Linked DNA regions of Homo sapiens. The protein of the gene in region 6 purifies or fractionates together with the protein of the main gene of each other region. This does not show direct contact. Each region holds a gene or a part of one and is shown on either strand. Other genes may lie near its edges. The genes, in order: PPP1R15B, LAPTM4B, FBXO11, CASP10, MFAP3, TNFRSF10A and ERMP1.

Region 1 (2,969 bases), on a different chromosome or scaffold from region 6:
GGCCAACATGATGAAACCCCATCTCTACTAAAAATACAAAATTTAGCCGGGCATGGTGGCAGGTGCCTGTGATCCCAGCTACTCGGGAGGCTGAGGCAGGAGAATCGCTTGAAACCGGAAGGTGGAGGTTGCAGTGAGCTGAGATCGTGCCACTTCAATGCAGCCTGGGTGACAGAGGCTCCGTCTCAAAAAATAATAATAATAATAATGCACAAAACAGAGATTTCCCTGCTACTTAAGCACTAGGCTAAGCCCAGCATCTGAATGTTATTGCTTCTGTGAATACCCAGTTTAATTTTCTTTGCAGCAAAACTGAAAAGCTAGGGCCAATTTCAGAATCAAATCTTCAGTTTCTTAGAAGGGCCTCTCATAATACTGCAAGAACCAAGTTCTTCTATTACTAAAATGTTGTTTGCAATTATACTAATCCTGCTTAGTAATTCCAAAACCATTGTAAAATACTATGATACATATAATATAAAGTTGAACCAAAATATCACTTAACATTTAATAATTGCAAATATATTTATTACAATTTACAGATTAGTTATGTTATATACACAAATATAATTTTAACTATAAAATCCCAACTAGTTACATTTAAATTATTGATCTGTAGAAGCCAATTTAGAGTCTTCTAGTCCCCTAACTTTACCTTCCTTAAATTATACAAAAATAAAATCTGATAGTTTTGATTTCAAGTTAAAGATGAAGAAGTGTTACATTTCATCACTCAGAAATGGAACTTTTACCTGTCTGTACAAAGCCTTTTACATGCTACATTGACACTTAAAGCACCATTAACAAGACTTTAAATGTATAAAATGTTTAATTAAAACCTCCAAAGATTTTCTCTTTAAGATTACGGGGGTTTAACTTTGTTCTAACTAGAATTGGGATGAAACAAGAATTTTGCTTTTTTCTCCTTCAGTCCAACTTTAAAATAGTCCTTTCTGTCCTTCTTATCACCTTCTGATCACTTCTTCCAAGGAGGCTAGTATATGGAAGAACTCTTAATCAAGCTTTCACTCATTTGGTAGTGAGGTTAGAATCCCATGGGGAACAATTTTCCAAAATCCAATGAAAGATGTCTCATTATTTTCAAATACACAGAGGTGCTAGGTTTAAGAAACAGGAAACACAACGTTAAGTCTCGGAAATAAAATGTTTCAGCCTGGTTTTAAAAGAATGCCTGTATGTTGTCAAAAGGCTTTTTTCAAGGCAAATGACGCCTGCTTTCCAACCGACATTGCTGTTGCTTGAAACTAGCCTGTTTTCATGTTATTAGACCATCCTGTAAATGTGCTCCCTATGATTACCTAAAGTGGAGGTGCACAAAACACACAGAATCCCAGCACTTTGAGAGGCCGAGGCGGGCGGATCACGAGGTCAGCAGTTCAAGACCAGTCTGGCCAACATAGCGAAACCCCGTCTCTACTAAAAAGACACAAAAAATTAGCCGGGCGTGGTGGTGTGTGCCTGTAATCCCAGCTACTCGGGAGGCTGAGGCAGGAGAATCGCGTGAACCCAGGAGGCGGAGGTTGCAGTGAGCCGAGATCGCGCCACTGCACTCCAAGCTGGGGGACCGAACGAGACTCTGTCTCAAAAAAAAAAGAAAAAAACAAAAAACACACAGAATAAGGGCTCTGCAAAAATTTGACCAGCTTTTATAGTGTTGCATTCTCAATGTGTTTAATTATGAATATATAAACAGTGGAGGCAGTTCTTAGAACTGGATAGAAATAAAATAATGACCAGGTAGATTGTAAACTGAGGTAGTAACCCTGTAAGCACTTCTGATGAAAAATTCATCCCCACACTTAAATAAGTTCAAAACTAAGAGGTCACCTATTCTACTTATGTTTTCCATTACCTGTGACAGGAAGCACACGGAATGAAAGCAGACCACGGAAGGGTTAACAACCCCTCAACCTAACTTATGTGTACCTTGTAAAGCTAAACAAATAAACCAAACACAAACAGTCAATGCAAAGACTTCAATTCAAAGTAACCTTTGGGCTAAATATATTAAAACTTTCCAGTCATTAATCTATACTTCTATCCTTTCCTGAAAGTAAAGGCCTTGCCATTACTTCTCTCATTATTAAATAGTAGGACACAATAAACCTGGATATTGACTGAAGTTTATATTTTACATTTCAAACGTGAAAATTCAGAACTGCCCATTTCCAATTTTACAGTGGGATCCTGACAGGTTTTAAAAGTGACAGTGCTGAGGCATGATATTCATTAACACTGGTTTTCTGTTGAGAACATATACACCAAAACCAAATTGCTCTGAGATGTCTCCTATTTTCTTTCTAGGAAATTTCTAGGCTTTTAAGTTTAAAAAATAAATGATTATGATGTAATTATTACTTTCCAGAGTGTTTTGCAATAACTTCAACCTGTTAAGAGATACAAAGAACTATATTAAACTGGGAACTACAATAACGTACACAGAACCCTCTTCAAAGAAATTAAATATATTAGATGTTAAAATGTGGTAGAAAGATGCAGCTTTCCCAAAGTAGTAAAGTACTGCACATATGGGTTTTGTGGCAGTCCTTGGAAATATCCTAGGTAGAACTTAATGTAGAAATAAAAAGGCTACCACATATTTTCAATCCAAGTCATTTTTACAAGAAAAAAAAAAGTGACACAAAATAATGCACTTTAAGTTGGTAGCATACACAAGGTTATTTTTTAGCCTAACATAGACAGGCCAAATCATTGAAATAAAAAAAATATAGAAAAACATAAAAGCCCATTAACTTCTGAATTTTGGGAAAGAAACAAGAAAGAGCCCAAAGTTTTCAGATAGGCACACATAATTTAGATTAGAAATGAAAATGGGCTTTAAGCCCTATAAATATTGTTTTCCAAGAAAATAAGTTTTGAAAGTGCAAAATGACAACTCAAAAAGGTCCCCTTTCCACCTCATGCAGGCAAAGGACATTTAAAAGCAC
Region 2 (2,363 bases), about 75 Mb from region 6:
CTGGTGCGGTCACAGCTGTTTCCACTTGTTATAAGTTGCTGTATCTAATGCACACACACGTATGTGCGCTGGGGGCTCAGTCCTAAAGTCAAATATGCACACGCAGAGAAGACAGCTGTTGCTTTGTTTTAGAGAATACTTTTTTCTTCCCGCAGCTCAAGCTGACACTTTTGGAATTGCTAGTGGAGATGCTGTTGTTAGATACTGGCTAGAACTTGTCAAGGTCGACCATGAGGCTCTCTTCATGTGCTGACCTGTGCCTATCTTTCCAACTTCATCTCTGCAACATTCTCCCTTCAGTGTTCACTGTAGCAAACACCTTGCAGTTCCCAGAAAGTGCCCTGTGTCCTGCTTTCCTCTTAACTCCCTACTGGAATGTCATCCTCTTTACTGCACACCTGGTCATCCTACTGAGAGGCCTTCCTTGACTCCCTAGCCTAAATTGGTTGTCCTTGTCTGTTCTTTCCTAACTTGTCTGCATCCACACATTGCTCATGTTGAGTTTTACCTGTGTCTGCCTTCTGCTAGATTGCAGGCCCCTGAACAGACAGTGACATGTTTTCAGGTTCAAGTCGCTGTGACTGAGTTCCCTGGACACCTAGGTGCTCAGTGGGTGCTGGTTTGTTGGACTTAGTTTCCTGCTGTGCTTCCTTACCTCAGGCATGTGTTCTGTACTGAGTGTATCTTGCCTACTCCATTCCTTTTCCACGTGGGCAACGCTGAACATTTGCCCCAGACTCTGTATCTTGGTTAATACCTGACATATAAAGTATTTAGCACATAGGCAAAGATCACTACCTCTTTCAGGAACAAAGGCCGGCTGGCGGGTGCGACTCTGGCGCATTGCCTTTGCCTGTGTGTTGCTGGCCAGTTATCGGCTTCTTGCATCACAGCTCCAGAGTCCCATTTAGCTTGACATGGGCTGGGCCTTGCAGATACTCCTCCTTCACCTCCTGACCCTGTTCAGCCAGGCCAGTAGGGGGCACTGGAGGAGGAAAGCCGCCACCCCCCCTCCTCCACCCCCCTGCCCGCCTGCCCGCCCCCGGTTCCTGTGTGTTTCTGCAGTGTTCAGATCTTGCTGGCAGTGCTCCCCAGGGCCCAGTGCGAGCGGAGACAGCGGTGGCAGCGCCTCTCAGGCGGTTTCCAGAGCGGGCCGTGGCTCCCGGGAACGGCTTCCCGCAGGTGATTCTGTGCACACTGGCCTCTACCTGGTTCAGCGGGAAGCCTCTCCACTGTCCAATGGGCTTCAGCCACACCCTCCCTAGCCGTGTCTCAGCCCAGCCTTGGGGACCTCTGTTCTAGCTTGTTCCGTCCCTGAGTGCCGTACTTCAATCTTCTTATCCATTAGTGCTCTTTCCCCGCCATGAGTCAGTTCCCGGTTCCTCAGTCTCCTGTTAATAATTCTTCATGAAACTATATTCACATCACTGTGTGGCTTCTGTGTTCTGACTGGACCCTAGCCAGTACAGGTGCCCTCTGCCTAGGCAGCTGAAGGAACCATACAGGCTTTTCGGGGGCCGGCCTAAGTGGCACCTCCGTCACTCCGCAAACATCTGAGTTCCTGCTGTCGGATAGGCACTGGCCCACCCTCGAGGAAGTGAGACCTGGCTTCAGCCCCACAGGAGCTCCAAGACTGGGAGGAGAGAAGTAATGAAGTGTGTAGAGCTGGAGAGGAGGGGTGTGTGTGTGTGTGTGTGTGTGTTTGGGAGAGTGCAATGTGACAAAAACTTAACAAAATTTTAGTGTGGTTCTAGTAGGAGCTAAAGGGACAGATAAATGAAAATTAACAAAATTGATGAATACCACTTTAAGCATAAGTGATATCCCTGATAGAAAATCTAACCAAGTGTGGTTTTGTTTGTGAATAGTCTTTCCCTTTCCACAAATCACTTGAGGTGGGTGAGGTTTTGTTTTGTCTTCTCATCTCTGAACTCCTAAAGGGCAGGGACTGTCTTTTGTCTCAATTATCTTATACTCACAATGACTATTACATACTAGATGCATAATAAATGTTAGTTTACTGAATGAAGGGTGATATAACTATTCTGTATTCCATTTTCTACTCCAAGAAAGCCGAAATCAGCCAGTGTATAGACCGCCAACTCTGAGGTATCCTTATTTCATAGACATGGAAACTGATGTTAAGGAACTTACCCAAGGCTACGCTGATAAAATGTGACTGACCCAGGCTTTGAATCCAGGCTGATACCAAAAGCTTGGCGTTTTCACTGCACTTTGCAGTTCTCACCATGAGTGGTTACTGTAGTCAATCAAGTGCCTGCCCTATTTGTGTGTGCACATGGACACACTCACCTAGGGGTCTTTTTTCCTCTTCAGAGCCATCACCATTTCTTTTAGAGTCA
Region 3 (3,500 bases), on a different chromosome or scaffold from region 6:
GATCAGGAACTACTTGTGGTTCCTGCCTTACCTAGTAGGTCTCCAAGCTGGTTGGCCTTCTCTTGGGTTTGTCAGAATTTCCAGTAAAGGGAGAAAAGCAGGATAAGAGCTCTTAGGCCTTATCAGCAGAGCTCTTAGGCCTCATCAGCACAACTTTAACACTAATAGCAACACTACTCTGTTTCTATCCCTCAAGTAAGTTCCAAGCTTTAAGAAAATAGGCTCTTTTTACAGCTCCCATACTTCCTGCCTCCAAAAGGTTGAGTGGCACTGTCTCCTCTCATGGGATACATTTGGAAGGGTTAGCCACCAGATGACAGAGTAGTACCCCACAGTACTTACTTCCTAAAACAGGAAAAATCATGTTTCTTGTGCAGAACTCCTCTATTAAGACTGCACAGGATCCATGAAGTTAAAATATCACATGCTAGAACAATGCCACAGAAAGTATAACTAGCATTCCTGACTAGAACAGCAAGGAGTGTCTCCTGGCTGCTGCATATTATAAATATACAGCTCATTCCTCATCAGTACAGTGTCGAGAAAAAAGTATATACACGTATATATACACACGTATACACACATATATACGTATATACACACGTATACACACGTATATACACACGTATACACACACGTACGTATATACACACGTATACACACACGTACGTATATACACACGTATACACACACGTATACACACACGTGTATATATATACACGTATACACACACGTGTATATATATACACGTATACACACACGTGTATATATATACACGTATACACACACGTGTATATATATACACGTATACACACACGTGTATATATATACACGTATACACACACGTGTATATATATACACGTATACACACACACGTGTATATATATACACGTATATATACACACATATATATGTATATATATACACGTATTTATGGAATTGCAGGGTTTTTAAAAATTGAAATCATTCAGTACGTATAATATTACATAAAATATTGCCGGTGGGGAGATATATATATTTATGTATATATATACACACGTGTGTACATATATACACATATATATGTATATATATACACACGTGTGTACATATATATACATATATATGTATATATGTACACACGTGTGTACATGTATATATATACACACGTGTGTACATATATACATATATATGTATATATATGTGGGTACATATATATGTGTGTCATAGATAAGATTTTTATCCCACAAATATGGGATTAGAGAGACTAGGTTTTTATTCTACAAGATTAGCTCAGAGTAGAAATGAATAGCAAAATCTATTAATGCATTCATTAAATTTCTTGAACTATAAATATCACAATTAGATTTTCAGCACTTCAAAACAGTCCTGTGACTTTTCCAATAACTAGAAAAAAAATACATCTATTTTCAAAAACTCCCATGTCAAGATTATTTCCAGAACCCAAATTCATCTTTTATTAAAAGGTAATAAATGAGAAACTAATAACAGTTATTAGATTCCAGGTAGAAGAATTTAGTAGCTGGAGGCTGATGTACGAAGGGGACTTCTGAATTTTAAACTGTGGCAATATTACCTATTCAAAGTAATTAATTTTATTTTATTTATTATTTATTTTTTGAGATGGAGTCTCATTCTGTCACCCAGGCTGGAGTGCAGTGGTGCAATCTCAGTTCAAAGTAATTAATTTTAACAACTAAAATCTACTGATGAGAACACACAGCACTTCTGTAGACTTGTAAGCTTTCCTCATACTTTGTAATATCTAAAAAAATTACAAAATACATTCCTGCAGTAAAGACAATAAATTCATCAGAACGGGCTGCAAAAGCTAACTCCTTCTAGAATTTTAAAACAAAACAAATATCAAAAATCCAATCCCACACTACTGTTTCATTAAATCATGGACTATATTACCGAATTGTCACTGCGTAAAATACAGTTTTTATTTTTGAGACCGAGTCTTGCACTGTGTCACCTGGGCTGGAGTGCAATGGTGTGATCTCAGCTCACTACAACCTCAGCCTCCCGCGTTCAAGCGATTCTCCTGCCTCAGCCTCCAGAGTAGCTGGGATTACAGGCGTGAGCCGCCATGCCTGGCTCATTTTTGTATTTCTAGTTAAGACGAGGTTTCACTACGTTGGCCAGGCTGGTCTTGAACTCCTGACCTCGTGGTCCACCTGCCTCGACCTCCCAAAGTGCTGGGATTACAGGCGTGAGCCATTGCTCTGGGCCTGTAAAATACAATTCTACTAGTACATGAAATCCCAATCTCAGGAATTTAAGAAATTAAAAAAGCTAATGATTAGGCTAGTATTTAGTCTTAGGATAGCTGATCATTTCAGCTAACGAGTGAACACAATAGTCCATGAAATACCCAGACCAATATTTCCTTACGTGGGGTGTAAGAAATGCTCCCCCATGGAAAGCTTTGAAAAATCCTCAAAGATTTTAATCTATAGGGTCTAGTTTCTTTCTTCTTCAAACACTGGCCATTACAGATAAGACAAAGCGTATATACACACACACATAATGTATGTACAAACATGTATATACACAAATATACCCACATACACACACACATACACATACACACGTGTGTATGTAAATATATTTAAAAGTGGTGTCAAGGAAGTTTTTATACCAATTAACCTGTGGGCAATGAAGCAGCTAAAGACCATTCTGACAGACTTTTTGCCTGAAAACATATTATACTGTAACTATTTTATTACCACTAAAGAACCTGAAATGCATCTTTATATAAAACAAATGATTTTATATACAGTCTGAACTAGTTTGTCTCAAAACAGCGAGTCTCACTTTGATTCCCTATCTGGAAAGTTGTCTGATCCACTATTAAGTAACTCTATCCAAGATCCTAATGCAAATGTTACATATCCATTAAGAGTTAGTAAAAGGTTAAAAAAAAAAAAACAAAAACCACACATACATTCTTAGCTTTAGTTCTTTAATTATCCTGTAATAATTAAACCCAGCATATTCCTAAACTAGCAACAACAAAATCCCTTTCTTTCCAAACTAGAAAGTGACACTTTGCGTGCTCCATAAAACTTTCGAAATAGAGTATTCTTAGTTAACTTCTGATCATTATATGAATCGGACATTTAAAAAAACGTAATTAAAATGTCAATTTTTCAAAGAATAACATATTTTTCCATATGGCTGGCAACATCTTTATTATTTTAGTTAACGAATTCATCTTAATGTTTTATTCATTTTAAGGCCATTTATGTGCCCTCTTTAAGACTCACACTATTTTCCCTAAAGTTCTTTTCCTCTCTGCTCTGTGCCAACACAGAATCTCCAAAACAGTTTGTACTAGCTGCAGAGAAGCAACAATTCTACAGTAAATTTCATTTACCATTTGGTTGGGTACATACTGAAATTTGGATTCATGAATATTGACAGTTTATAGACATCAATGAGAAGAAAATTGACACTGGCATGTGACTGCCAACAACCAAGTCACCTTACCTCAC
Region 4 (3,500 bases), on a different chromosome or scaffold from region 6:
GGCTGGTAAAGAAGAGAGAAAAGCAAAGTTGACTCAAGGTTCCAATCCTGAATTCCCAGAAGAGCACTATGGCCATTCCTTCAAATGGAAATTCAGGAGTAGGAGCTCCTGGAGAGAGCTGGGAAGATGAGCTCAGAAACATGCATGCTGAATGTGAGGTCCAAGGGCTAAACAGAGGTAGGATATCTAGCGGGATGTTAATGAGACAGGCTCAAGCAAGTCATTCATTGGCCCAGCAAATGTTTAACAAGCTCACAATATATCAGGTCAGGGGCTGAGGATATAAAGTTGAATGAAACAGGGTCTCTGCCCCCAGGAATTCAGAGATGAGTGGGCCAGAGATGGCAACTTTGGAGACGTTTTCATGGAGGAGCCCATGGCCTCTAGGTATGGCTAAAGGTGCCAAGAGGACAGCATGTGGCAGAGACAGAAGGGAAGCTGTCAGAGCAGTGGCAAATAGAAGTCCAAAGATAGCACATAGGTGCTCAGGACGTAAGAGTGAGTGATAAATAAACGAACAAATAAAAGGCCCCCATGCTTTTGTTCATGCTATTCCCTCTGCCCAGCACATCTTTCACCTGATTCTTTACCTAACATCTATTTGTCATTTCTAGAAGCCTCCTCTGATCCTTCAAATCTGGGCAAGGTACTCATTCTGCATGTTCCCATAACACCTATACTTCACAATGTGCACTTACCAGCTGGGGATGCCCTTCCCCGTCTATTTGTTTGTCTATCCCTCTAGCTTGTAAGCAACCTGAGGGCAAGGACTCTGTCTTTTTTTAACTCTGTATCTTCCTTTCCAGGTCCAGGCTGGTACTCAATACAAGGTTGCTGGATGGATGGATGGATGGACAGATGGATGGATGGATAGATGAATGGGTGGATAGATGGATGGATAGATGAATGGGTGGATAGATGGATAAATAGATAAACAGGAGGGTAGGCAGATGGTTGAACAGGTACATGGATAGAACAACGTAGAACTCTCACCCTTACCAAAGGTGTTGAATGAGAGTAAAATAAAAAATAAATAAAACTAATTAATTACAAATGGAAGAAAAAAAAGAGCTCTCACCTTGGGACCAATTTCTTCAGATGATTACACAGAGACTGAATATACCAGCTGCCTTCCTCCACATGCCGAAAGGATACATAGCCTGGGACAGTGGCCAGACCAAGTAGGAAGTCAGCCTCGGCAGGAATACTGTCCTGCAGGGAAGTGGGTGCCTGCTCAGGGTTCAGAGCATCTGCTTCGATGGATACGGAAGGCTGTATCTCTTCACCTTGGCAGGCCTGGATGAAAAAGAGTTTAGGTTTTTCAGCCAGTCTAGGGCACTGCAGGGCTGTGAAGTGAGACATGATCTCCCGAATGGGAATGAGGGCCTCATCCGAAGAGTAGACAGCTCCAAATCTCCCATGGGTCAGAATACAGAACACGAAGCAGTCCCCGTCGGCATGGGCTGGATTGCACTTCTGCTTCTGCAGGACCATCTCCATTTCCACTTTCGTCACATTATTGTGTATATGCACTGTGAACCCAAGCCACTGGAACACATGACTCAGGATCTCTGTTTAAAAACAAAAAAAAAAAAAAAAGAGAGAGAGAGAGAGAAAGGGGAAATAATAAAATGATGCAAAACAAAATGAAGAACTGAAACAAGGCCGGGCACAGTGGCTCACACCTATAATCTCAGCACTTTGGAAGGCCGAAGCAGGCGGATCACTTGAGGTCAGGAGTTTGAGAACAGTCTGGCCAGATGGCAAAACCCCATCTCTACTGAAAATACAAAAAATAGCCAGGTGTGGTGGCTCACGCCTGTAATCCCTGCTACTCGGGAGGCTGAGGCACGAGAATGGCTTGAGCCTGGGAGGCAGAGGTTGCAGTGAGCTGGGACTGCACCACTGCACTCCAGCCTGGGCAACAGAGCAAGACTCTGTCTCAAAGAAAAAAAAAACTGAAACAATGCTAATAGTTACAAAATTTGCACAGCAAATAGCCTAAAGCTTTGGATTATTTTTATTTTCATAACCATAAAATCTTACAATGAATCTCCTATCACGTAATACCCAGTGTTGTCACAACAGTCCTGAGAATCGGCAGTGGCCAGTGTTTCATCCTGTTTCACAGTTGAAGAAGCCAAGGTCTCTTGACTCTCCCATGATCACACACCTAGTTAGTGGTGGAGCTGGAGCTCACGCCCAAGTTGTCTCGTGCCAATCCAGCAGGCTCTCCCCCAGTACATGCTCTCCTCTATTCAGAATTGTGAATAGTCAAAGATTCTTGCCACTCTTTAGCAGACTGATGACTCCCCAGGGATATATAAGAGGCTCAGAAACATGATATCATCCTTACACGTATATGGAAGATAAAAGTCACAGAAAGAAAATGTGAAAATAAAAAATAATTTTAAGATCCCCAATTTGCATTTGATAAACTGTTCCAGACTTTCTTACCAGCATCTTTATGGGTTCCTTGTCTGTCCTTCAGGGAGGTAAAGCTGTGGTTGTTGACAATGACACAGAGGCCTCTGTGGTTCCGATTCATCCTGTACACAGCTGCCCTCTTGAAGAATAGATAGAGCCACTTAGTAGGAATCCTTATCTTAGGGCCTTAAATGTTTCTAACCAACCACTCCAATGGATCCACTGTGAGGAAGAGCAGGATGTATCTCCCCATGCCAGTTGTTTAAACCATGTTTTTGTTGTTGTTGTTATTTTGTTGTTGCTGTTGTTGTTGTTTTGAGATGGAGTCTCACTCTTGTTGCCCAGGCTGGAGTGAGTGACGCGATCTCGGCTCACTGCAACCTCTGCCTCCCGGATTCAAGGGATCCACCTGCCTCAGGTGCCCACCAACACCCCCAGATAATTTTTTTTTTTTTTTGAGACAGCATCTCGCTCTGTCACCCAGGCTGGAGTGCAATGGCGTGATCTCAGCTCACTGCAACCTCCACCTCCTGGGTTCAAGCGAGTCTTCTGCCTCAGCCTCCCGAGTAGCTGGGACTACAGGCGCCCGCCACCATGCCCAGGTAATTTTTGTATTTTTAGTAGAGACGGGGTTTCACTATGTTGGCCAGGATGGTCTTGATCTCTTGACCTTGTGATCCGCCCACCTCGTCCTCCCAAAGTGCTGGGATTACAGGCATGAGCCACCGCGCCCAGCCGATAATTTTTGTATTTTTGGTTGAGGTAGAGTTTCACCATGTTGGCCAGGCTGGTCTTGAACTCCTGACCTCAAGTGATTCGCCCACCTCAGCCTCCCAAAGTGCTAGGATTACAGGCATGAGCCACCATGCCTGTCCAAAACCATGTTTTTATACTCTAGTCTAAACCCCTTGGGGTATTTATGCCACATTATTTCTGAAGTCACATATTGAAAAACTGGGGATTCTGACTACTCTGCAACTCACTTTTACTGCACAATTGTGATCTGAATAAAATTTCAAAGATTCTTTTTTAAGTCCTAGAGCCCAGGACAAAGGATAAATCTCATTTGCACT
Region 5 (3,500 bases), on a different chromosome or scaffold from region 6:
ACATAAATAGAGTTATTGACTTCTAAAGCTATGGAACCTCCTTCATGGGCAAGAACATTAGACAACAGAATTTTCTTTTAATAGTTTCTCCAATACGAAGAGACAAAGTACAGTGTATTTAATAGTTTGTAAGCATACCAAATTTCTAGCTCAAACTCTGTAAACTAGCTAAGGGAGGAACTGACATCTTAAGTGTCTAGTTAGTAGAAATGCAAATATAAAACTACAGGGACAGATTGTTAGACACATTTAAAAGAAGAGCAAAATATCTTGAATAAAAGGCAAAATAACATCCTAGTCCAAAAGTCTATGTATTTATGATCACCTTCCTGGTAATTTGACTCCCCCTTTAAGCCACCAACTCTCAAAGAAAAAATTCAACTTTTATTTCTATAAAATATGGGATGAAATGCCTAGCTTTATGTCTTATAAAGCACCAAGATAATTAGTTTTGGAAATGACATTTACTCTCCTTTATATTTATATGAAGGCTGCTTGATCACAGAACATAAAAAACAATGAATCACTGTATTTTGCCATTAAATATCTCAAAGTCTAAATTACAATACGGTGCAAATGTCATTTAATTTTCATTAATTAACCCTTGAAAGGATGGTTGAATGGTGACAAATACTTTTCTAAATCTTTACAATTTAAGGATGGGGTATACAGAGTAAAATAAAAAACCTTCAGACTTTGGCAATACATGACACACTAAACGTGTTTATTTCCATTTCCTCCTAAAACCGCACAAAAAGGACACTAAAGGAAACAAAGACTTAGGCAGAGAGGGGATTTTGGAAGTAATATAATCTAATTGATTCAGTGCACAGTGATTTGCTTCTTACGACATGCTACAAGTTAGTAGGAGAATCTAGTTTGGAATACAGTCTCTTTTTTAAGAGGGGGTGATGGGTAGAAACAATGGAAATAACATTTATTGAATGACTGCCATCAGCCAAGCACTGTGCTAGGGGCTTGACATGTAAGTTTCCAAGCTCTTTTTCACTGCAAGATATACAGCAATTGGAGGACATAATTTTGTACTTTATTCTAGATTAGTGGTTCTCAACGGTGACAGGCTATGAGTGTGCTGAAAAAATGCTCCAGGCTTTCTCCAGAACTTTGATTAGGAGTTCCTATAGCTTCATCCAGGGCAGCACTTCCCAAACTTCATTCATTCCTTCTCCTGTCTTTTTTGTTGTTGTTGTTTTTACTATATCCATGAACCAAATTATCGTCATTTCTGCTTTTCTTTTAAATCAACTCATTTTATTTTTACTTTCACATTTATTTAAAAAGGAAACTCTACATCAGTTCTGTGGACAAATGTAACCGTACACATAAACATAATGAAAACAAAGAAGTGTTATTAGCTTCCAGAGATACTACTGCCTGCTGAAAGGCTTTGAGCTGGAGGCTTGCTCTCTCTGTAGTAAAACCAAAACCAAAACAAAAAGCCCCCCACAACTCCAGTTTATTTTAATGCCACCTCATTTCTTAACCTGCCATCTCCTTCCTTTCTACTCTTCCCCACCACTGAGTTTGAGATCGGAGGGATACATTTTCATATACTGAACAGTATCTATTGAGCACCTACCATGTGCCTACCTACTGCCCCATAGACATTGTCTCGGCCTCCACGAAGTTCAGTCTGGCAGATGATGGACACTAACTACATATATACAAAATAAACTCAATGTTACCCAAGGGAAAATACAGATGCTACAGGAGGACCCAACATGGGGAGTTAATCTCATCATGGAAAGCCTCTGAGAAAAAGAGGTGTGCAGCACCTATTCTTCAGGTGCAGGACCTGAAGAATAAAGAGGAATAAAAATTGGGAGGAAAGCACTCAAGGTAGAGGGCCAGGAGACAGGGAAAAATGAGAGGGGTCACTGGTCAGGAGTTGTTCACAAAAAACAGCTAAAAAATTGTGGTAAAGACAGGCAGTGGCCAAAAATGCTGCGTCTGATTCCTGATTCTGGAGGAGAACTAACTGGGCCAATGGTGAAACTGGAGATAGACTCCGGAAGCTGCAGTGGCTGAAGTGAGTGAGGGAGATATTCGTCCATGATGAAGACGTCAAACAACTGAGAGGCTCAAACGTGGGCAGATCACCTGGGGGTATGGTCACATCCCCCCAGGATCAAAGTAGCTAGTGTAGAAGAAACTGGAAAGAAAGGAAATGGATTCGGTCTTCCTGCTCTGAGATTCAGGAACTTCAGCAGAATGAACAGCTGTCACAGGCGAGGGCTGCAGGGCAATGAGTGTCCTCACCAACACAAGGCTTGGCAAAGCATAACTCCCACATGGAATTCTGCCTTCCCGCAAACTTCCTGAACCTCCTATCAAGGCCTTAGCTATTCCTCCTACATAAATTCAGAGTATAGCTGTATAAAGGATGGCTTCTCCTTCACCCCAGAGCCCTCCCCACCTACCGTACTCATCTGGCGCTGGTATATGCTGCTCTGTACTGCTAGGCAGTCTATCCCATCTCAACTACCCCTTAAGAACAAGGCCTATATTTTTTATTGCTGTACGTCATAACTAGCACATGCTCAATAAATATTGATGGAGATTAGTTTAAATTTGATTCAGTATGTGACAGATCTTTATAAATTGAATAATGTTATGCAACAGGGATTATAATTGTTCAAACTGACATACAGTTGCCTATTATAAATTCTCTGAAACAAAAACAGTCAATGCTAACAATCTTGGAAGACCTTAAAAGTACCTAATTAAATGCATTCTTCCGACTCCCAACCTGATACCTTCATTTACCATGTTGTCCTAGAGGATAATGGTAGGAATAAAAGATCACCAAGTGCAGTTTCCAAACCAGGTTGAATATCACAACTGTCAGGAGAGCTTTTTAAAAATATGGATTCCCAGGTCCCAACCCAGAACGAGTAAGAAACTCTGTGTTTGCGCCTTGGAATTTATGACTTTTAATTGGCTCCCTGGGTGTTTCTGAGGCATTGGATTCATGTACTGCATCTAAGGGCCACTAATACAGTTCCTCAATTTCCTCTGCAACTGACCTGCAGAATGGTGCTTCAGGCTATTTGAATATTTCCAATGAGAGATATAATCACTCACATTCCATTCTAGATTTAGATTACTCTAGATCAGCAAAATTGAAGGTCTCTAATAAGAGCAGGGTAGCAGAGAGGTTCAGAGTATAGGATTCAAATACGATCTGTGACTCTAACCAGCCTTGCAACTTTTATAAATGACTTAATCTCCCTGCCTCAGCCCCTCATCTTTAAAATGGGCAAAATAACAGAATCTATTCTCACAGGATTATTGCAAAGTCTGAATGAGGTAGTATACATAAAACACAGAGTCTGGCAATGGTAATCACTGAATAAGCTCTATTATTATTGTTCATGGTTCTTTCAGATATTGAACTAAAATTTACATTTGATAGTTACATCATTATAAAACACTCAGAATACCATGCAACCATTTAAAAATCTTGGGGGTTGGGGGGA
Region 6 (3,500 bases):
TTCTTTTAAAGTGCACATAGAACATTCTCCAAAATAAACCATATGCTTGGCCATAAGATAAACCTCAATACACTTAAAAGGATAGAGATAATACAAAATACACTCTCCTACCACAATGGAATAAAATTAGAAATCAATAGCAGGAAGAAACTGGGGAACATCACAGCTATATAAAAATTAAATAGCACACTCCTAAATAACCAACTGGTCTAAAAAGAAATCAAAAGAGAAATCAGAAAATAAGACGAATGAAAATGAAGACACAACATACCAAAACCTATGGGATACAGCTAACGTAGCTGAAGTTTACAGAGAAATTGTCTATTAAGGAAGAAGAAATATCCTTCCTAAATGTCTATTAAGGAAGAAGAAATATCTCAATCTATAACCTAATAATCCACTCTAAGACACTCGAAAAAGAAGAGCAAACTATAGATAAAGCAAGCAGAAGGAAGAAAATAATACAGATTAGAGCAGAAATTAATGAGACGGAGAACAGAAAAACAACAGAGTAAATTAATGAACTCAAAATCTAGTTCTTTAAATAGATCGATATATTGGCACAACTAATTGTGTTAAAAAATTAGCACAGGGAAAAAATAAGACTCAAATTATAGTCACGCACTGCATGATGACGTTTCGGTCAACAATGAACCACATATGTGACGGTGGTCCCATAATATTATAATGGAGGAGGAAAATTCCTATCGCTTAGTAATGTCATAAGTCAATGCGTTACTCAGGTGTTTGTGGTAATGCTGATGTAAACAAACCTACTTCACTGCCAGTTAAAAGTATAGCACATATAATGAAGTTCTATATATAATATTTGATAATGATAATAAATGACTTACTGATTTATGTATTTTTGATACTATACATTGTAATGTTATTTTAGAGTGTACTCCTACTTACAAATAAAAAAGGTAACTATAAAACAGCCTCATGCAGTTTTCCAGAAGAAGGCATTGTTATCAGAGGACATAGGAGTTGACAGCTCCATGTGTGTCTGCCCCTGAAGATCCTCCAACGCGACAAGATGTGGAGGTGAAAGACAGTGATGTTGATGAACCTGTCCTTGTGTAGACCTAGGTTAATGTCTGTGTTTCTTTTTTTTTTTTTTTTTGAGAAGGAGTCACACTCCGTCACCCAGGCTGGAGTGCAGTGGCGCAATCTCAGCTCACTACAACCTCTGCCTCTCAGGTTCAAGCGATTATCCTGCCTCAGCCTCAGCCTCCCGAGTAGCTGGGACTACAGGTGCCTGCCACCATGCCCAGCTAATTTTTTGTATTTTTAGTAGAGACAGGGTTTCACTGTGTTAGCCAGGATGGTCTCGATCTCCTGACCTCGTGATCCGCCTGCCTTGGCCTCCCAAAGTGCTGGGATTACAGGTGTGAGCCACTGCGCCCGGCCAATGTCTGTGTTTCTATCTTAGTTTTTAACAAAAAAATTTTTAAGTAAAAAAAAGTTTAAGTTAAAAATACAAAAATGTTTATAGAATACGAATATAAAGAAAGAACATTTTTTGTACAGCTGTACAGTTTTTGTTTTTTAAGCTAAGTGTTAAAACGAGTGAAAAAGTTTTAAAAATTAAAAAGTTTATAAAGTAAAATAGTTACACGAAGTTAATATTGAAGGAAGGAAAAAAAAATTTACAGATTTGGTGTAGCCTAAATGTACAGTGTTTATAAAGTCCATAGTAGTGTACAGGAATGTCCCAGGCCTTCACATTCACTCACCACTCACTGACTCACCCAGACAAGATCCAGTCCTGCAAGCTCCATTCATGGTAAGTGCCCTAGACAACTACATCATCTTTTTTAACCTTTTATACCATATTTTTATTGGGCCTTTTCTATGTTCACATGTTTAGGAACTCAAATACTTATCATTGTGTTACAATTGTCTACTAGTACAGGTTTGTAATCTAAGAGCAATAGGCTATATCACATAGCCTAGGGATGCAGTAGGCTATATCATCTAGGTTTGTGGAGGTACACTCTATGATGTTTGCACAATGATGCACTTGTCAGAATGAGTTCCCATCATTAACTGAGGCATGACTGTATTAGAATCAGAAATGAGAGAGAGCACATTACTACAGATTATATAGAAATAAAAAAATTATAAAAGAATACTATGAAACCTGTACAACAAAAAATTAGGTACCTTGGATGAAAGGGGCAAATTCCTAGAAAGACACAAACTACTGAAACTGAATCAAGATGAAAGAGACAATGTGAATAGACATATAGCAAGTAAAGATTTTGACTTAGTTATCAAAACTACTCCTAAAGAAAAGTCGTTTTCACAAGATGGCACTGAAAGCAAAGAAGGAAGCTCCTGCCCCTCCTAAAGCTGAAGCGATGCAAAGGTTTTGAAGGCCAAGAAGGCAGTGTAGAAAGGTGTCCACTGCCATGAAAAAAAGAATATCCATACATCACCCACCTTCCGGTGGCCCAAGATACTGAGACTCTGGAGAGCACCCCCAGGAGAAACAAGCTTGACCACTATGCTATCATCAAGCTTCCACTGACCACTGAGTATGCCATGAAGAAGATAGAAGACGACAACAACACACTTGTGTTCATTGTAGATGTTAAAACCAACAAGCACCAGATCAAACAGGTTGTGAAGAAGCTCTATGATGTTTATGTGGCCAAGGTTCAACACCCTGATTAGGCCTGATGGAGAGAAGAAGGCATATGTTCGACTGGCTCCTGATTACCATGTCTTGGATGTTGCCAACAAAATTGGGATCATCTAAACTGAATCCAGCTGGCTAATTCTAAATACATGTATATGTTTTCACCAGAAAAACAAAGTTGAGGCCCAGATGCCTTTACCACTGAATGATACCAACCATTTCAAGAAGAATTAATACCAATTATTCAGAAACCCTTTTTAAAGACAGCAGAGGAAGGAGCACTTTCCAATTCATTGTATAAGGACAATATTACTGATATGATTTGGCTGTGTCCCCACACAAATCTCATCTTGAATTCCCGTAAGTTGTGGGAGGGATCCAATGGGAGGTAATTGAATCATGTGGGGCAGGTCTTTCCCTTGCAGTTCTCATGATAATGAGTAAGTCTCATAAGATCTGATGGTTATTATAAGGGGGAGTTTTCCTGCACAAGCTCTCTTTGCTTGCTGCCATCCATGTAAGACATGACTTGCTCCTCCTTGCCTTCCATCATTATTGTAAGACTTCCCCAGCCACGTAGAACTGTAAGTTCAATTAAACCTCTTTCTTTGTAAATTGCCCAGTCTTGGGAATGTCTTCATCAGCAGCACGAAAAAAAAAAAAAAAAACTAATACAGTAAATTGGTACCAGTAGAGTGGGGAGCTGCTGAAAAGATACCTGAAAATATGGAAGCAACTTTGGAACTGCATAACAGGCAGAGGTTGGAACAGTTTGGAGGGCTCAGACGAAGATAGGAAAATGTGGGAAAGTGTGGAACTTCCTAGAGACTTGTTGAATGGCTTTGACCAAAAG
Region 7 (3,500 bases), on a different chromosome or scaffold from region 6:
AGGATCTATTACCATCTTTTGGGAATGAGGTGCTAAACAGTTCACCCCTGTTCTTCTATGGGGAAAGATGACATATTTTAGAGGAGGCCAGCATTTAAATTAGTATGGAGTTTAAAAAAGGAAACAAACTCTGTTTTAGTGAGTCAATGTATATTTCTCACATAAAGAATTTGATCTCAGAAAATGCTGTTTACTCACATACTTTCAAGATTTAAAATTTGCTTTTGATAAATAAATGCTGCACAGTAGGCCGTAACCATTGACAATATACCTGGAATGTTCCCAAAATCCCTGTAGATACGAAAGTCAGTATCTGAAGGAATGATTCCACTCTGAAAAACCTCCTGAGCCACCACAGAAGCAAAAGGGTGTTTAGCTGCTGAAACATAAGCTTGAACCAACCAAGGATTTTCAGGACCTAAAATGAAAGATGACAACACAATAGAAGGTATTCCGGCAATTTTTTTTAACATACTAATGTTTTTCAACACATAGAAAACAGTAAAAGTGGTGGTTTTGGGAGACGGGTCCAATATGTACCTTTTCATCCCTTTTTCTGTAGTTTCCAATGTTTCTCTGATATATGTGTTTGACTTTTAGAATAAAAACCTTTTGTGAAAATAAAGTATAAAATAACAGCAATACAAAAGTCTGTCTGAAAATGAAAGATCATTCATAAATCTATCATCCTAAAATGCCTATTATCAATTGTATATCTTTAATTTTCTTACTAATGTAGAATTGTGTGTATATAGCTGTACTCAAGATATATATACTTTGTACATTTGTTTTCACTTAACATTATATTAAATGCATTTTCCTATGTTGCTAGATACAAATTGGGTATACCTTATCTGAAATGCTTGGGATCAGAAGTATTTTGGATTTTTTACTTTTTCGGATTTTGGAATATCTGCATTATACTAGTAAGCATCCCTAATCCTAAAATCCAAAATCAGAAATGCTCCAATGAACATTTTTGAGCATCATGTCAGTGCTCAAAAAGTTGTGAATTGTGGAGCATTATGGATTTCAAATTTTCAGATTAGGGATGCTCAATCTGTATTATAATAATCATTTTGATAACTGCTTAACATTTCACTGAATATGCCATAAAGTTCCTTGTTACTTTTTATAATTTATCATTATTAATAATTTTCCATCTGTATCTCATACATCTACAGCTTTTTCAAATGGGAGTTTTTCCTGTAGGATAGTGGGATACATTGTTTTATAATTTATATAATTATATAATTATACGTATATTTATATAATTATAATTATATAATTATATGTATAATTGTATAATTATTCACTCTTCCCTCGCTGAAAAAGGATTATACATTCCTACTCTTGCCACATACCTTGTAATGCCTGCCTGGGGAATGAGTACATACTCTTCTGTACCTATTAACTGCAGGCGTGGCTACATGACTTGCTCTAGCCAACAGACTGTGAGGAGGAATGACATGACCCTCAACTGGGCAGAGTTTTCAAAGGCATTAACATCATTCATACTTATCCTTAACTTTGATTTGTGAGATCAATACATCCCTTATAGGGGCTTCTCCTTCAGCCTGGATCCCAGAATGAATAAGACACATGGAACATAATAACCGTGGACCATAACTGCAGTTATTCAGAAACCAAAATGCAACACGAGCAAGAAATAAGCCTTTGCTGTTGTAAACCACCAAGATTTTGGGGTTGTTACCACAAAACTTAGCAACATATTGACTGATGTAAACAGACCAAGTAACTGAATGTCAGGGAATCTAAGAATATTGTTTTTTTAACTTCACAGATTATAAAATTGCTTTCCTACATTTTAAAAAATGACCAAGGCTGGGTGCAGTGGCTCACGCATATAATCCCAGCACTTTAGGAGGCCGAGGTGGGCAGAGCACCTGAGGTCAGGCATTTAAGACCAGCCTGGCCAACATGGCAAAACCCCACCTCTACTAAAAATACAAAAATAAGCAGGGCATGGTAATCCCAGCTGCTCAGGAGGCTGAGGCAGGAGAATTGCTTAGACCTGTGAGGTGAAGGCTGCACTGAGCCAAGATTGTGCCACTGCACTCCAGCCTGGGTGACAGAGTGAGACTCCATCTGAAAAAATAAAAATTAAAAATTAAAAATGACCCAAAAAAGCAGAGGGACCCTATAGAAACAGACATACAAGTAATCCAGATACTGGAGTTACCAGACACAGATTCTAAAATAATTATGATTAATATGTTTTAAAAAACACAGATATCAGTAATTTCACCAGACAAGTATAATCTATTTAAAAGAGTCCTACAAATGGAAATCCTAGAATGAAAAAACATAACTGATGTTGCGAATTTTAATAAATGGGCTTAACACAAAGTTTAATACAGCAGAAGAAAGGATTAAAATTAAAGCATAAAAAGAAAAAAAGGTTGGAAAATACACAAATGTGAGTAATTGGAGTCCCAAAAGAACAGAAGATAGAATGGAGAAGATAAATGTTTAAAGACTTAATGGCCAAGAATCTTCCAAAACTCATAGAATTCAAGCCACGAATTCAAAAAGGTCTACAAACCCCAAACAAGATAAATATAAAGAAAAACTGTATCTGGCACCATTTACTTTTGAATACTATTCCCCACCAAAAGAAACCAAGCCTCCTTAGAGAAATGGCTGATTCCAGGTCTGGGACTAGCAAAGTACAAGGTAAGTTGAAACATCTGTGCCAGAAAGTAAGAAAGTGATCAAAAAGACATGTCAAAGGGGCTCAGGCACTGATTTGAAATAGACACCACTGGCCTAAACTGGGACAATTCATGCAACAAAATAAACAATAGTAACAGAATATATAGAGTAAAATTAAAATACATAAAGTACTGAAATAACAAAAAAAAAAAAAAAAAAAGGAAAATGGAAAGCCTTCCTTCTTGCAGAATTCCAACTATGACCTACAGGCAGAATGATGGAACCAGAAACTCAGCAGTAGCATTTGGTAAACATTGTAATAAAAATGCTTGGGGACAAGAGTCATCAATGATTGCTAAAACTAGGATCAAAGTTTTATGACAAACAGGATATTTACCTAAAGTATCTATCACTAAGGGGAAATCAGTAACTTGTACAAAGAAAGAAATAGTAGAAAAACCTGGCAAATAAATACCTTAATCAAACGATGAAAATGTAGTATCATTAATAATGAGACAAACAGATACCACATGCATCCTGATGTGATGCACTGAGGACACAAATACAAAAGGAAAAAGAACTATGATGATGGGGAAATACGTACATTACGAGATCTTATCATATTAAAATACTATTATTAAAATATTACTATTTGATATTAAGAAATTTATGCTAAAAAATACAATGAAAACCATACTGAAAAACAGGTAAAGCCAAACTATCATTAATTATCTTAAAACTTAGGATAATAGTTCCTCTTAGATGGGAGGGAGTTGTATTTGAGAAGAGAGGTTAAAAAAAATGCCTAGGCAGGCAAGGCAATC

Evidence for each region.
Region 1: the proteins of TNFRSF10A (region 6) and PPP1R15B purify together in Homo sapiens (affinity purification with mass spectrometry; 2 studies listed by BioGRID and IntAct, with this or other methods). This does not show direct contact.
Region 2: the proteins of TNFRSF10A (region 6) and LAPTM4B purify together in Homo sapiens (affinity purification with mass spectrometry; one large-scale study listed by BioGRID and IntAct). This does not show direct contact.
Region 3: the proteins of TNFRSF10A (region 6) and FBXO11 purify together in Homo sapiens (affinity purification with mass spectrometry; 2 studies listed by BioGRID and IntAct, with this or other methods). This does not show direct contact.
Region 4: the proteins of TNFRSF10A (region 6) and CASP10 purify together in Homo sapiens (affinity purification with western blotting; 2 studies listed by BioGRID and IntAct, with this or other methods). This does not show direct contact.
Region 5: the proteins of TNFRSF10A (region 6) and MFAP3 purify together in Homo sapiens (affinity purification with mass spectrometry; 2 studies listed by BioGRID and IntAct, with this or other methods). This does not show direct contact.
Region 7: the proteins of TNFRSF10A (region 6) and ERMP1 purify together in Homo sapiens (affinity purification with mass spectrometry; 2 studies listed by BioGRID and IntAct, with this or other methods). This does not show direct contact.

The regions. Positions count from the first base shown.
Region 1 is NC_000001.11:204,402,881-204,405,849, forward strand, and holds the end of PPP1R15B (protein phosphatase 1 regulatory subunit 15B), read right to left. Parts: 3' UTR 501-2,969; downstream 1-500. UniProt on the Homo sapiens protein: Maintains low levels of EIF2S1 phosphorylation in unstressed cells by promoting its dephosphorylation by PP1.
Region 2 is NC_000008.11:97,848,788-97,851,150, forward strand, and holds part of LAPTM4B (lysosomal-associated transmembrane protein 4B), read left to right. Parts: intron 1-2,363. UniProt on the Homo sapiens protein: Required for optimal lysosomal function. Blocks EGF-stimulated EGFR intraluminal sorting and degradation.
Region 3 is NC_000002.12:47,899,999-47,903,498, forward strand, and holds part of FBXO11 (F-box only protein 11), read right to left. Parts: intron 1-3,500. UniProt on the Homo sapiens protein: Substrate recognition component of a SCF (SKP1-CUL1-F-box protein) E3 ubiquitin-protein ligase complex which mediates the ubiquitination and subsequent proteasomal degradation of target proteins, such as DTL/CDT2, BCL6, SNAI1 and PRDM1/BLIMP1.
Region 4 is NC_000002.12:201,207,141-201,210,640, reverse strand, and holds part of CASP10 (caspase-10 isoform 1 preproprotein), read right to left. Parts: intron 2,567-3,500; coding exon 2,458-2,566; intron 2,352-2,457; exon of another isoform or gene 2,174-2,351; intron 1,572-2,173; coding exon 1,079-1,571; intron 1-1,078. UniProt on the Homo sapiens protein: Involved in the activation cascade of caspases responsible for apoptosis execution. Recruited to both Fas- and TNFR-1 receptors in a FADD dependent manner. May participate in the granzyme B apoptotic pathways.
Region 5 is NC_000005.10:154,045,467-154,048,966, reverse strand, and holds part of MFAP3 (microfibril-associated glycoprotein 3 isoform 1 precursor), read right to left. Parts: intron 1-3,500. UniProt on the Homo sapiens protein: Component of the elastin-associated microfibrils.
Region 6 is NC_000008.11:23,204,603-23,208,102, forward strand, and holds part of TNFRSF10A (tumor necrosis factor receptor superfamily member 10A), read right to left. Parts: intron 2,815-3,500; exon of another isoform or gene 2,306-2,814; intron 1-2,305. UniProt on the Homo sapiens protein: Receptor for the cytotoxic ligand TNFSF10/TRAIL. The adapter molecule FADD recruits caspase-8 to the activated receptor.
Region 7 is NC_000009.12:5,812,618-5,816,117, forward strand, and holds part of ERMP1 (endoplasmic reticulum metallopeptidase 1), read right to left. Parts: intron 419-3,500; coding exon 272-418; intron 1-271. UniProt on the Homo sapiens protein: Within the ovary, required for the organization of somatic cells and oocytes into discrete follicular structures.